2 linked regions of the Homo sapiens genome follow. The protein of the gene in region 2 purifies or fractionates together with the protein of the main gene of each other region. This does not show direct contact. Each region holds a gene or a part of one and is shown on either strand. Other genes may lie near its edges.

Region 1 (7,295 bases), on a different chromosome or scaffold from region 2:
CCTAACGGGTTGTTGCAGTAAAACCCACAGGTACCACGTGCGATGTACCTTTCACGGGACTGACACACAGGTGCTCAGTAAATGGAAGTCTTCAGTTCTCTCCCCTGGGTTGTCTGGCTTTGCCTCTTGCTAATTCCTAGCTTTCTCCTACAGGTTCAAAACTGTCAGTGATGGCTGTGACAGGAGCCAGGAGTCCTATTGTCTAGAAAACTCAGGACCCCCTGCCCTGCCTATACACAGCCATTCTCCATTCAGTTTCCCCCATCCCCTTCTTTTCCCTTGGAAATGTCATATTTCATCCTATGAACACATGGTTGCCAACACAGTCCCCCAGCCTGGATCACCTTTCTTTTCCTCTCTGCTCCTCTGCACAGTCCCATTGGTCACCCCGCACCCTAGTGTTTCTGGCTATGTTTCTGACACTTGAGGATTCTAAGCTGTGAGAGTCAGAGGCACTTACCTCTGAATCCCCACAAAGCCCTCAGCACAATGCCTGGCACATAGCAGGCACTCAACAAATATTTACTGAGTGCTTGCTAGGTGCCAAGCACTGATCTGGGTGCTGCAGATACAGAGGTGAGCAAGGCAAGCAGGGGCCCTGCACCAAGGAGCTCCCTCCCTAACTGGGAAGGACATGGCAATGACATCAACACATTTCAAAAAGGAAAGAAATAAAACAGAAAAAAGGGAAAGTGGCTGAGGTGGAACAGGGGTTGGCCCTGGATTGGGTGGTCTGGGTAGGTCTCATCAAGGAAGTGGCATGTGAGCTGAGTGGGATGATGAGAAGGAGCCAGCCATGGGAAGAGGCAGAGGAAAGCATTCCAGACAGAGGGGAGAGCATGCTGGAAGTGTCTGGGAAACAGAAAGAAGGCTGGGGTGCTGAGGCACTGCAAGAAGGAGAAAGAGATGGCTGTGAGGCTGGCTGGGGCGGGCCACATGGGGCCAAAGACCACAGTGAGGGGGTGGGGAGCCCCCCAAGGGCTTTAAGCAAGAGTGACATTACCTGACATGGGTTTTCTCTAGCTGACACTAGGGACAGAAGGGGAAGCAGGAAGACCAAAGAGGAGGCTGTGGTGCTGAGAGGAAAGATGACACTAGTTTGGGCCAGACAGGCAATAGTGGAGGAGGGTGTGCCACTGCCCACTGCCATTCCAGCCTGGGCGACAGAGACCCTGTCTCCAAAAAAAAAAAACTAGAATGGTGGGGTGCGATGGCTTACGCCTGTAATCCCAGCACTTTGGGAGGTCGAAGCGGGCAGATCACTTGAGGTCAGGAGTTCAAGACTAGCCTGACCAATGTGGTGAAACCCCCGTCTCTACTAAAAATACAAAAATTAGCCGGGCGTGGTGGCGGGCGCCTGTAATCCCAGCTGCTCAGGAGGCTGAAGCTGGAGAATCGCTTGAACCCGGGAGGAGGAGGTTGCAGTGAGCCGAGACAGCGCCATTGCACTCCAGCCTGGGTGTCACAGTGAGACTCCATCTCAAAAAAAAAAAAAAAAAAAAAAAGACTAGAAAGGTGGGTGACCTTGGATTCATGATACTACTGCTGGAACTCATTTTCCTCTGGAGATAACGAGGGTAGTGACCGATTCTAGTTTTATGTAATTGTTTAGGGGAGTTTTCTTAAGCAATGCCCGTCAAGTGCTTGGCATATGAACCCTTAGCTGTTAGTATCTCTGTGTTAGGCCTATCGACTTTGGTAGGGGTGATGGGGCAGGCGGTGCAGCTGGAGAGGCCCGATCACGAAGGGCCCTAAATGTCAGAGCACAGAGCGTGGGCTGAATCCTGTGCCCCGGAGAGCGGTGGGAAGGATTCGTAGAGGGGAATGTGCTGCTTAGACATGCATTTTGGAAGCCCCCTTCCCTGCAGAGAATCCAGGACTGGTCCAGTAGAGGAGACGGGGAGATGGGGTAGGGTGTCCGCTCACTTTCTAGCAGGTCCACCTCAAAGTCCTTGGTGGGCAGACGCACGGAGTTGAAGCCCCAGGTGGGGATGTGGCCTTCCAGCGGTGGCTTCCCCGACAACACGCGCAGGAACGTGCTCTTGCCTGCGCCATCCAGCCCCAGCACCAGCACCTCGCGCTGTTCCAGCTCCTCCAGCGCCGGCTCCTCGTCCTCCTCGTCCTCGGGCTGCGGGGAAGCGGAGGTAAGGTTGCGGCTGGCGGCCTCCCGAAGGACCTTTCCCGAGGGAAGACCGAAGGCACCAGAGGGCCCAGGCCCGCCTTCCACCCGTCCTGGGACAGGCAGGCATGGTCTGGATGAGTGGGACGAACGCCGCCTTTGCAGTCCTGAATTCCAAACCCTTGGCGAATTCCTTAAACGCTCGCGCGCCCCGCTTCCTCCACCGGTCTCGGAGTCCCGACCGCAGGCGGGAGGGGATGGGGTTTCTCCCGACATCCCCACCCCCGGGCGGGGTGCACTGCGCAGGCGCCGGAGGGGCGCGAGCCGACCCGGCTGGGCCCCGGGATGCTCCCGAGCCGCGCCCTCCAAACTCCGGCCCCCGCTGGAACACCCGAGCCTCATGGCGTGGAGCGACGGCGTGGCGCCAAGGCGCCGCACGCACCCAAGCACACCCACCCGTTCCTCGGTTCCCGGGCTCTGACCGCCCACCCGCGCGGGGCCTGTGCGCTGCGGCTGCCAAGCCCTCGACCCCCCAAGCTCCCGGCACCAGCAGGGCCGTTCCGTGGTCACACCCCTTGGCCACATGCGCGGAGTCGCAGCCCAGCCTGCCCGCCCTTCCGCAGGCCTCGGCCCGGCACTCACGTCCCACTCGTCCCACTCGGGGAGGCGGGCAGCCTCCGCGCCCCACCAGGCCTCTCCCCGGTCCCAGCGCCGCTCTCGGCCGCGGCCGAAGTAGGTCTTCCAGAGGATGAAGAGCACCGAGCCCAGCACCGCCGCGGCGCCGCCCAGCGCCAGCACCAAGGGGCCCAGCGGCCGCGGCGCCATCGGGCCGGGCGAGGGACGCAGGTGCGGGTTGCACAGGCCGAGCCCACTCGCCCGCCGAAGATGGCCCCGCTGCGACTGCTGCGGCCGCGCCCACCCACCCAGACCCAGTCCCGCACTACAAGCCCCACAATGCACTGCCGCTGTCACGGCAGGCCGCCCGGGACCCGGCGGCGTGGGTGGTGGGGCGCTGGCCGGCGCGCGGGGACCTCCGGTCCCCCTGCCAGGTGCAGGGTGGAGGAAGGAGAGGCTGTGCCTGGGGAGGACGGGAGACGGCGGTGCTTGCTAGCATCCACCAGGGGTTAGCTCACGGCTTTTCTCCGTTACCCCTTACAATGATACCACGCAGAAGGGAAAACCGAGGCCCAGGAGTTAAGTAACCCGCCCAACGCCGCATCGTAGTGCTTTGGTGTAGCCTGCGTTCAAACCCAAGCGATCTGTCTCCCGGTCATCCCTCAAGACCTCGGGAGGAAATTGAAGCAAGACGCCCGATATCACACGGCAGTGGGGTGGCAGAGGCAGGAATAGAACCCAGGTCCGTGGCTCCCCGCCACCTCTAGCCTTCTTTCGCTGCCTCCCGGACCACAGGGGTTTTGCTGGGGTCCTGGTCAGGCTGAATTAAGCAGTGTCAGGACTTCAGAATGTTTAGGGCTGACTGCCTTGTCCTAGGTACCCCCAGTGACTGCCAAGGCTTCCACGTGTGTAGCACGAGGAGGAAGAACAGGAGAAACGACCTGAGTACAGCAGTCGGGTTCTTTTGGCTCTCCAGAGGGGTGACGCCATGTACGGCTGGCTGTAGGGTACATGGGTCGAGAGACCGCCTGTGGCTCTCAGGGCCCAGCAGGGCTACCTCTTCCCCTTTATATTGTCTCAACTCTTCACCTCCTTTTAGTTTGCGATTCCTCTGTACCCCTGGCTCTGGGTCCCAGCCCCTATTCCTTCTGATTTGTCCCCCTTTCCCTTTGACTACATATATATGCTCCTCTCCTCCCAGATAGTGATGTTTTAGCTACATCTTATTTCTTCCGGCATTGATTCTTTTGAAAAATTTATTTCTGGCCGGGTGTGGTGGCTCATGCCTGTAATCCCAGCACTTTGGGAGGCCGAGGCAGGCGGATCACCTGAGGTCAGGAGTTCGAGAATAGCCTGCCTAACATGGTGAAACCCCATCTCTACAAAAATTAGCCGGGCGTGGTGGCACGTGCCTGTAATCCCACCTACTCAGGAGGCTAAGGCAGGAGAATCGCTTGAACCCAGGAGGAGGAGGTTGCAGTGTGCTGAGATTGCGCCACTGCCCTCCAGCCTGGGTGACAGAGCAAGAATCCGTCTCAAAAAAAAAAAAAAAGAAAAAAAAATTAGCTCCTCCTCAAAAATACACCCACTTAGAGGGGAAAACCCACAAAATTGCTAAGATTAAAAGTTTGGCTGGTGCGGTGGCTCACGCCTGTGATCCCAGCACTTTGGGAGGCCGAGGCAGCCGGCCGGATCACGAGGTCAGGAGATCGAGACCATCCTGGCTAACACGGTGAAACCCCATCTCTACTGAAAATCCAAAAAATTAGCCGGGCGTGGAGCCGGGCGTGGTGGCAGGCGCCTGTAGTCCCAGCTACTTGGTAGACTGAGGCAGGAGAATCGCTTGAAACTGGGAGGCAGAGGTTACTGTGAGCCGAGATTGCGCCACTGCATTCCAGCCTGGGCAACAGAGCGAGACCTTGTCTCAAAAAAAAAAAAAAAAAAAATGTTTACAGTCTATTATTTGTGGAAAAGAAATAGGTGCTCTCACATAGGTGCTATGCACCAAGACCATGACAGCTTCAGACATTGGTACCACAAATATCAGGGATAAAGTTTTTTTTTTTTTTGAGATGGAGTCTCACTCTGTAGCCCAGGCTGGAGTGCAGTAGTGTGATCTCAGGCCTCCCAAAGTGCTGGGATTACAGGCATGAGCCACCACACCCAGCCAGAAATAAATTTTTCAAAAGAATCAATGCCGGAAGAAATAAGATGTAGCTAAAACATCACTATCTGGGAGGAGAGGAGCATATATATGTAGTCAAAGGGAAAGGGGGACAAATCAGAAGGAATAGGGGCTGGGACCCAGAGCCAGGGGTACAGAGGAATCGCGAACTAAAAGGAGGTGAAGAGTTGAGACAATATAAAGGGAAAGAGGTAGCCCTGCTGGGCCCTGAGAGCCACAGGCGGTCTCTCAACCCATGTACCCTACAGCCAGCCGTACATGGCGTCACCCCTCTGGAGAGCCAAAAGAACCCGACTGCTGTACTCAGGTCGTTTCTCCTGTTCTTCCTCCTCGTGCTACACACGTGGAAGCCTTGGCAGTCACTGGGGGTACCTAGGACAAGGCAGACTGCAGCCTCCGTCTCCCAGGTTCAAGAGATTCTCCTGCCTCAGTCTCCAGAATAGCTGGGATTACAGGCACCTGTCACTACGCCTGGCTGATTTTTGTATTTTAGTAGAGACGGGGTTTCGCCGTGTTGGCCAGGATGGTCTCGAACGCCTCAGCCTCTGAAAGTGTTGGGATTACAGGCCTGAACCACCGTGCCCAGCCAGAAAAAGTTGTTTTAATCAAATAGTAACTTCCAGGAAAGTCTTAAGTTTTCATGTATTTGTGGCTAAGAAATAAATGAGATGATCCCACCTTATGATCTACATAAGGGTGCAAAGTGCTATTTCTTCCTTTTCTGACTGAGAGGTGATATACATCCCTTCCTGTGGTGGATAAAGAGCAAGGTGCCAGCTTTGCTTCCACAGAGGTTAAAAAATATGGCATATTTTAAAAGCTCCAAATTAACAAAGGAACACCTTTAACACACACACGCACGCACACATATACACACAATTATACTGCAATGTAATTGTGCTGTTGATAAGCTAATTATAGAATTCATCAAAGACTTTAATTCTTAGTGCACTCAAGCACCCTGGTCTGGAAACAGCGCTTAAGTTTCAAGTCGCATGAGCAAGGCCTCTCAGTTCTGCCAGTACGGCTGGAAGCCTCAAATGCTGAAATCTAAATGTGACATTCACCCTGCACCACCAATCATAGCTCTCCTGAGATGAGTTTTGATGGCGAGCTTTGGACTGGGGTAGAAACGTGGATAGATTTTTGCAAATTCTGCTGTAACTTCGTTGCTTCGCCTTCTTTGTGAACCCTTCAGGGATAAGAGAAGTCTTCCTTCAGGATGTGACTGACACCTCAGCTGGCGCCTCTAAGCCTCACTCTCCTTTATGTAAAAGAGAAATGATATTAGGATCGCCTTCCCTAGGGGAGGCAGGTGAGGTCGGTTCCCTTTTTTGGTTCAGCTACTAGTACGAACCCTGCCTAACCCCGCTGTTTTGGGAGACAGTCCGTGCTCACTGCACCGCTTGCTAATCGAAGTGACTTCTCATCTCTCCCAGTCTCAGCTTCACCTCCGTGAAGTGGGAAAAACAGGATGACAAGTGCTCGCACTTGGCAGCCCTTTTTGAGCCTTGAGGGCTTGGGTTTGTGGGTGTCATTTTACTATGCTACCTCCGTCTTCCCTTAGCTTGTCACGGACCCAGGCACAGCACACGCGCTGAGGAAGTGGTGGTGAAGTGTGGCGTTTCCTCTCGGGGCTGGCGGATTCCACACTCGGAGCTGCGGCTCCACAACTCGCTGGGCGGCGAAGGGCATGGGGAGGGGGCGGGTCTCGCGATCGTGGACAACAACTCCCAGCATGCCCTGTGCTCCGCTGGGCCAAGTCTCGCGCGAGATCCCGCGGTCTCCGGAGGCTTTATCTGCAGTGCTGCCTGCCCGCTGGGTGGTACTGCTACCTAGTGGGTCTTGGGGACCTTCGAAATCGCCGCCGCTCTCACAATGGCTTGGGTCCAGACTGCGCCACAGCCTCTCGGGAGACGTGGGCCCTCGGAACCTTTTTAGTGCCGGACTCCGGGCCGCAGGCAGTCCCGCGGCAGCAGGATCACAGGTGAACAGATGGCGGGCCTGGGCCCTCCCTTGGGGCTGCGTTCTCTGGCGATCAGGAGGGGCGCTTCCGGCGAGGCCCGATCTCGGGGCCCCTCCAAGCCACTCCCCTCTCCCCGCACCTCTTAACCCTTCATCCCGGCTTCGAGCTCGGCTGGGTCGCCTCTTGCCTCCCTGGCTCCGCTCTCTGGGGTCTCCGTAATGGGGCTTCTCTCCGGGAATGCCCTGCAGCTCCCGTACGGGCTTCCCCTCCGCTTCGTGGGACCAGCCCAGCCCGAGCCCCCGCGGCTTGTCCTCAACCTCATCTCCCCACACCCCGCCTTCGGCTAGGGTCCTGGCCCTAATCTTAGCCTGGAGGGGTGGGTGAAGCAGCCGGCCTTTCGTATCCTGGCG
Region 2 (7,021 bases):
TAGAGTTTCATTCCCTCTGACAATAACTTATCACTATTATTCAATATCTTACTTATCTATACAATAATAGTATGTATAAAAAATGACTGCAGGCAAACATTCTAGGTTTTTGTGTGTTCAAAAAATGAATAGATCAATACTAGGGCTTACAAAACAAATTAACTGACCGGTTGCATTTTTTTGAATGCAATAGATCATTAAAAAAAATGATCTGGGCAGAGGCAACAGTAAAGTAAAGATTCAACCACATAATAGCCATGATTGAGTAATCAACTCACTTGTGATGCTGGAAACTATGTTTCATCTGGATACCCAGTTTCACCGAGAAAACTAAATTGGGCTGAAAATTGTGGTTGATCTGTTTGAGTAGAGGTTATTTTAGCTTGTGAGCAGTGACACGGTGCTCTGGGATTCTGGTCGTGTTGCTCCATCATATAAATTAACTGTCATGGACATTTTACTTTCCATGTAGGTAAAGATAATAAAAGGCTGAGGTTCACCACACAATGTCATGGAAAGGGACATATCTGTCAGCCCAGTGCACACCAGTTCAGACAATCCTCATGTCCACAAGCTTTATATCTATTCTAAATTCATAGGAGTGGGACAGAAGGTTCTGGATTAATGGAATCCTTAAAAAAAAAAAAAAACTGTCTTGTCTACAACCTGAAACTCTTCTGGAATCCAAATGGACTGGGAGCAAACTGGTTGGTTTTTGACAGAAATAAAAGGCCAAGGAAATAAGCAAAATTTATTTCCTTTCTTCAATAATTTTATAATCCAACTCAGGAGCACAGAGTCTCAAAGTCAGTAACCTCCCACAAGCCATCTACAGGCAAGATTTATAATCTGTATAAATAAGATGTATCATCTATATACGGATGTATTTATAACTTACAGCACTCTATTCCCCTGTCCTTCCTCCTTGTCAATCCTATACCTCACATCGTCCCAGAGGAAATATCTGGGAAGATTCTCTTAGCTGTGGCACTATGATTTCCTAGTGAATAGTTTTGTAATCTTAATTTACTAATCCCATCCTTCTATTCAGATGACCAGCAATTATGTGCCACTTATATTAAAAATTCAAAATAAGAAAATGAAAGTTAAAAAAGTAAATAGCCCTATCTGAAAGTTATATATGTAAACAAGAGTTCATGAAAGTTTTTTCTCCAATCACTGTAGTTGATCTTTTGAAAGTTCAGTTTCTTTGATCAACAATCAGTAAACCTCAAAGGTTAAACGTTGAAGAAAAAAAATCTGGAAAGAAAAGAGGTAGAAAACTTAAAATTAAAATGGACACAGCCCCTACTAGAATGAATAGAAACATTAACATAATCGGTCAAGAACACTTACTGGGCATATTCTGAAAAGATGCTTTGACAACTTTAAGCAGATGCCATAATCCTTAATCTCAATTAATTTCTGATAACCAGAGTTTGGAACATTACAAATAGATGCAGGCCAGGTGTGGTGGTTCACACTACCAATCCCAGCACTTTAGGAGGCTGAGGCAGGGGATTGCTTGAGCCCAGGACCATCCTTGAAACCCCATCTCTACCAAAAATACAAAAATTAGCCAGTCTCATAACCCGGTCTCAAAAAATAAATAAATAAATAAATACAAATAGATGGAAGTTAATAAGTCACTCGAGGGTAGCAATTTTCAGACTATAAAAGTTTGAGAAATCCAAGATGCTTAATATTTCAATGATGGGGAAGCAGTTTGGTCTGATGTGGAAAAAAACATAGACATTGAGACGGCTGAAACTCTATAGGAAAGAAAGCAAATGTGATGGAAACTTAGTCAGTTAGAAAAAGGAGAAAGTAGGAAAGTGTGAGTGTTTTGAGGCAGTGGAAAGCACAAACTGAGATTCAAATCATGCTGACAGTATCTCTCTACCCTGTGTAGGACACCTTTGTGCCTACAAAGGTAGGTGGATCAGTGGCCTATGACCCATCACTGATCCCAGGACCAGGTGGCTTCACAGATGAATTCTATCAAACATTCTAGGAATTAATGCCAATCCTGAGTTTAGAAACAGTTCTACATTATCATGTGTAATCAATAAATGATTTAATTCTTTTTTAAAAAAAGAAGCAGTTCTAAACTCAGTTTATGAGACCAGCATCACCCTGATACCAAAACCAGACAAAGACACCACAAAAAAAAAAAAAAAACCTACAGGCTGACATCCCTAATGAACACAGATGAAAAAATCCTCAACAAAATACTAGCAAACTAAATTCACCATCACATTAAATGGATTGTATATTCTAATCAATTCTGATTTATCCCTGGCATGCAAAGATGGTTCAACATATGTAAATCAATCAATGTAATACACCACATTAACAAAGTGATATAAAAAGGCCACATGATCATCAAAATAGAGCATAAAAAGCATTTGACAAATTCAACATCCTTGTGTGATTAAAAAAAAAAAACTCTCAACAAATTAGGTACAGAAAGAATTTACCCCAACACAATAAAGGCCATCTATGAAAAGCCCACAGCTAACATCATACCAAGTCATGTAAGACTGAGAACTTTTGCTCTAAGATCAGGAAAAAGACAAAGGTGGCCACTTTCAACACCTCTGCTTAACATAGTACAAGAAGTCTTAATCAGAGCCATTAAACAAGAAAAAGAAAACAAAAGGCATTCAAATCAGAAAGGAAGAAGTAATATTATCTCTGTTTGCCGATGACATAATCATATATGTATAAAACCCTAAAAGTGCCACAAAAAAACCTGTTCAAACTAATAAATGAATTCAGTTAAGAGGCAGGATACAAAAATCAACATATAAAATATCAGTCAGGTTTCTGTACACAAACAGCAAACTATCCAAAAAAGGAATTAAAACAAAATCCCATCCCCAATAACAATAAAAGGAATAAAGTATTTAAGAATAAACTTAACCAAAAATGTTAAAGACTTGCACACTGAAAATCATATAGCAACTTATTCTTTCATGATTATTGTTTTGCCATCTTTGCTCAAGAACTAATGGTAGCTTTGCTTGACAATTATATGAGATGCAGGTTTTCACTGTCATCACTTAATTTAACCTACCTCGTCCCATATTAATACATAACTTAGACTCTCCATACCAACCTAGTCATTTGACTACAGTCTCCCATGCACCATCTCCCCATTCCTCCTGCATATTTGGGGTTACTCTTCATAACCTGTTTCATGTCATTCCTCAGCTCTAATCATCAATGCCTCATTTGAACCTTGATGGTCCCGCCTGAGTGGTCTCACTGGTGGAAGACGATTATACAAGGACATGAGTAATTATACTTATCAATAGCAAACAGAAGTTTTTTCAATATTAGCCTCCTCCAGAAACTTTCTGCAAGAGCTGATTTTATTTCTTTTGCCTTCATTCTTTTTATAGCCAATAAGGTCAGTTTAAACAATAGTAGTCTGCAAATCATTTAGCTAATATTAAAATATTTGACAAATTATTTTAGTGGCACCTAAAATACTTCTCTTATGACAAATGAAAATCCAGAGGATGTTAAGGGCCAAAAATAACTGTAGTCACTGTCAATAAACAGACATTCCCCTGTGCTCCCCCCGTCCCCACTTTCCTTGCCCTTCGGTCCAGGCAAGTTTCAAATTCAGAAAAGTCAGTCTGGAATTATTTCATTCTACATTTCAGGACATAAGTGCAAAGGACAAGAGAAATGTATTTCTTTTCACTCAGCAAAGAAAGTCAGTGGTAAATGTGAGTTCAGTTCTTGCTTCTGCCATTTTCTCCTCTGTTCAAAACCAATCAAGGCCTGGATACTTGACCTGCTGGTTGGCAGGGGTCCTCTGTTGAGTGACCTGGTACTTGTCTGAAGATGAATGCAGGCAGGTAGGAGTCAGGGGAAGAGCCCCTCTCTGTGTGTGTGTCCGTGTCTGTGTGTGCATGTGTGTGTGTGTGTATGAATATGAGAGTCCTAAAAATCTCTCTTTTAGATCCAATACTATGTGCTATAAAAGAAGTCATTGAGAACTAACAAAAGTATGTACAGCAATTTATAAAATCTGCCACAATCACCTTTCCCTTGGCAGTTGAAATAAATTAAATCTGTCCCACATCTTATATCTGTCTCTCTGCTTTAATCTCCACATTGATTTTTGACCAAAGAGCCTCAAGACGTGAAATAATCAAATTGCACCAGAGAAAACACAAATGATCTGTTTTGCTTTGCATCTAAGTTTTATATTCAATCTTTCACTTATAAAAATTGAAAAAAGGAATTAAACTGAAACATACAGTCAATGGCTGTCATCTTCTGTCAATGATAACTTTTTACTAATGGATACAAGGTCCAGTTGACATTCTTTCAATCTGTCAACTGAATGTCAAAAAGCCATTTGCAACTGTTCAAAACACATGGACACTAACACTACTGACCATTACATTTAGTCATCTTCATTTCATTGGCAGAGTTTGACGCTGTTTATAATTTACATACAAAGAAATAGTTTTGTGCAAGAAACTTAGTCATCTTTGGACAGATGAATGACATTTTTATTAATTAATAAGAGTTAAATAACCATATCTCCTAAAAATCTGTTACCTTCATTTTCTCTATAATTTAAGATGTTTACAATTACTTTTTCAGCATATAATGGGCAAAATCTTATACGTGTTTGAAAATGATTCTTTATGACACTTTTCTGAATAGAACATTTTTTTCTTGCCTTGGTCTCTAATCTGTTTTCACTGTTTCTTTTTCCTGACCAGTTTCAAAAAATACTTCCATAATGCAAGGGATTTTTAGGTAAGAAGTTCTTTTTGTCTGTGTCTGAAGGAACAGAGTCAACATTTAAAATGAGGAGTCTCTGCTAATTTTTCCTCCCCCAAATATTTCACCAACCACTCATCATTTTCATTAAATTCTAAGTCCAATGTATGTCTCACCACAGTTCCTAGAGGAACAAGGGAGGCTTGATGTGGTCCAAGGTGATTGTGTATGAAAAGATGTTATTCCCTGAAAATGCTCTCCTTATTATACACAGAGCTATAGTGGAAGCTTCTGTTTATACAAGACCTTTTCTTCTTCATTTTCAACACAGGAAGAAATATCAGTTTGCAATATGAGCAAAGTCTATAAAGGGACAGCCAAAGCCTAGCAAGCGTTGGCTCTACAAGTCTAACATAAGTCAAAGGTAAATTAGCTGGCTGAAAGCATGTGGAAGGGAGAAGGGAAGGAAGAAAAGAAAAGGGAATGGAACAGAGTGAAAGAAGGAAGGAAGGGAAGGAAAGATGGAAGAGAGTGAGGGAGAAAGGGAGGGAGGGAACTGTAATACAGGCCTCTACACAGAACTCTATATGGACCTCTATATTTGTACTTCTGTAAATAAAAAAAAAATCACTTTTTCTCACAATCATACAAAGTGGATCTAGGTTTTGTGGGGGCTGGAATCTTACACAATTTAAGGATTCATTGTGACAAAAGAGACAAATGCCTAATACACAAATAGTGCAGTGCTTTGGAAGGGGCCTGCTCAAGTGGGAGGAAGGAAGGAAGGAAGGAAGGAAGGAAGGAAGGAAGGAAGGAAGGGAGGGAGGGAGGGAGGGAAGGGAGGGGAGGGGAGGGGAGGGAAGGGAAGGGAGGGGAGAGAAGGGAAGGGAGGGGAGGGGAGAGAAAGGAGGGGAGGGGAGGGGAGAGACAGGAGGGGAGGGGAGGGGAGGGGGGGGAGGGAAGGGGAGGGAGATGGGGAGGGGGAGGGCAGGGGAGGGGGAAGGTAGGGGAGGGAAGGAAGGGGAGGGGAGGAGGGGAGGGGAGGGAGGAAGGAAAGGAAGAAGGGAGAACAAAGTGAAAGGTAAAAATAAATTATTTTCTCTTCCGTGTCCCGACAGTGAGGAAGCTGGCCCAGAGGCAGAGCTGGGAGAGCCTGGGATGGCCTTCCTCTCTCTCAACTGTAATGCAGGCCTCTACACAGACCTCTATATGGGCCTCTCTATATTAGCACTTCTGTAAGTGAAAGAAATTACTTTTTCTCATACTCATGCAAAGTGGATCTAGGTTTTGCAGGTCCTGAAACACAATGAAAGGCTTCATTGTGACAAAAAAAAGACAAATGCCTAATATACAAATAGTGTGGTGCCTTGGAGGAGGCCTTGGAGGAGGTGGAAGCCCCAAAGGCCAATTTCACCAGCACAAAGATTATACTCAGTAATGGTCACCAAAGATCTAAGTCAGTGGTTCTTATAGTATGTTTGGGGGTCCCTGAGGATCCCTGTGTCCCTTTTGGGGATCTGCAAGGTCAAACCTATTTTCCTAGTAATATTAAGATGCAACATCAGTCTGTTTCTGCATCCACATCTGAAAAAGACTGAGAGAAAAAAAGGCTCCTGTCTGGCAAACTGGCAACCGCATTCTCAAACACCTGCTGAAATGCACTCAACGCAGCCCTGCTTCAGCCATATCAACCTAGCACTGTCTTGTATTGCTGGGGTATGTGGGGATTCTAACACCTTATCACCACCATCAAAAATATTCATGTAATTGGGAAGATAGGAGTTCTACAGCTGAAACCTGAAGGCTGGTAATACCATATGTTTTTCAGCCCTTTACGAATTTCTTTTTTAAGCTTCAGGATGGTGGCAGATAAGAAAATTGGAAAGATTTTTATTGCTGTATCTGATTGATGGATTCACAAGATAAAGAAACCCTCAATACTAGAATAATGGCCAACTCACCTAAATTCAGCCATTTAAAAAAATGCTGAATATGCGCATTAAATGAACATGTTTACCATAAATAAAAACAGAGACCAGCCCACGGGGCTGGCTTTTTCCATGTTTGATACCAGAAGATGTCTGGTGCTCACTCACCCTCGGCTACAGTCAATCTCATCACGAAGGTTTCGTTTTCTCCTGCGCTGGCCTGCAAGTAGCAGCGGTAAAGCCCCGAGTCTGAGACTGTGACATCGGGGATGACGATGACGCTCCACCTTCCGTGGCTGCAGTTGCTCACTATTTGTCTTGGGAACTTGGAGGTGAAATTT

What was found. The genes of interacting proteins can lie anywhere in the genome.
Region 1: the proteins of CD226 (region 2) and ARL10 purify together in Homo sapiens (co-immunoprecipitation; 2 studies listed by BioGRID and IntAct, with this or other methods). This does not show direct contact.

Annotation. Positions count from the first base shown.
Region 1 is NC_000005.10:176,361,213-176,368,507, reverse strand, and holds the start of ARL10 (ADP-ribosylation factor-like protein 10), read right to left. Parts: upstream 3,022-7,295; 5' UTR 2,945-3,021; coding exon 2,762-2,944; intron 2,129-2,761; coding exon 1,927-2,128; intron 563-1,926; exon of another isoform or gene 477-562; intron 1-476.
Region 2 is NC_000018.10:69,888,853-69,895,873, forward strand, and holds part of CD226 (CD226 antigen isoform a precursor), read right to left. Parts: coding exon 6,849-7,021; intron 1-6,848.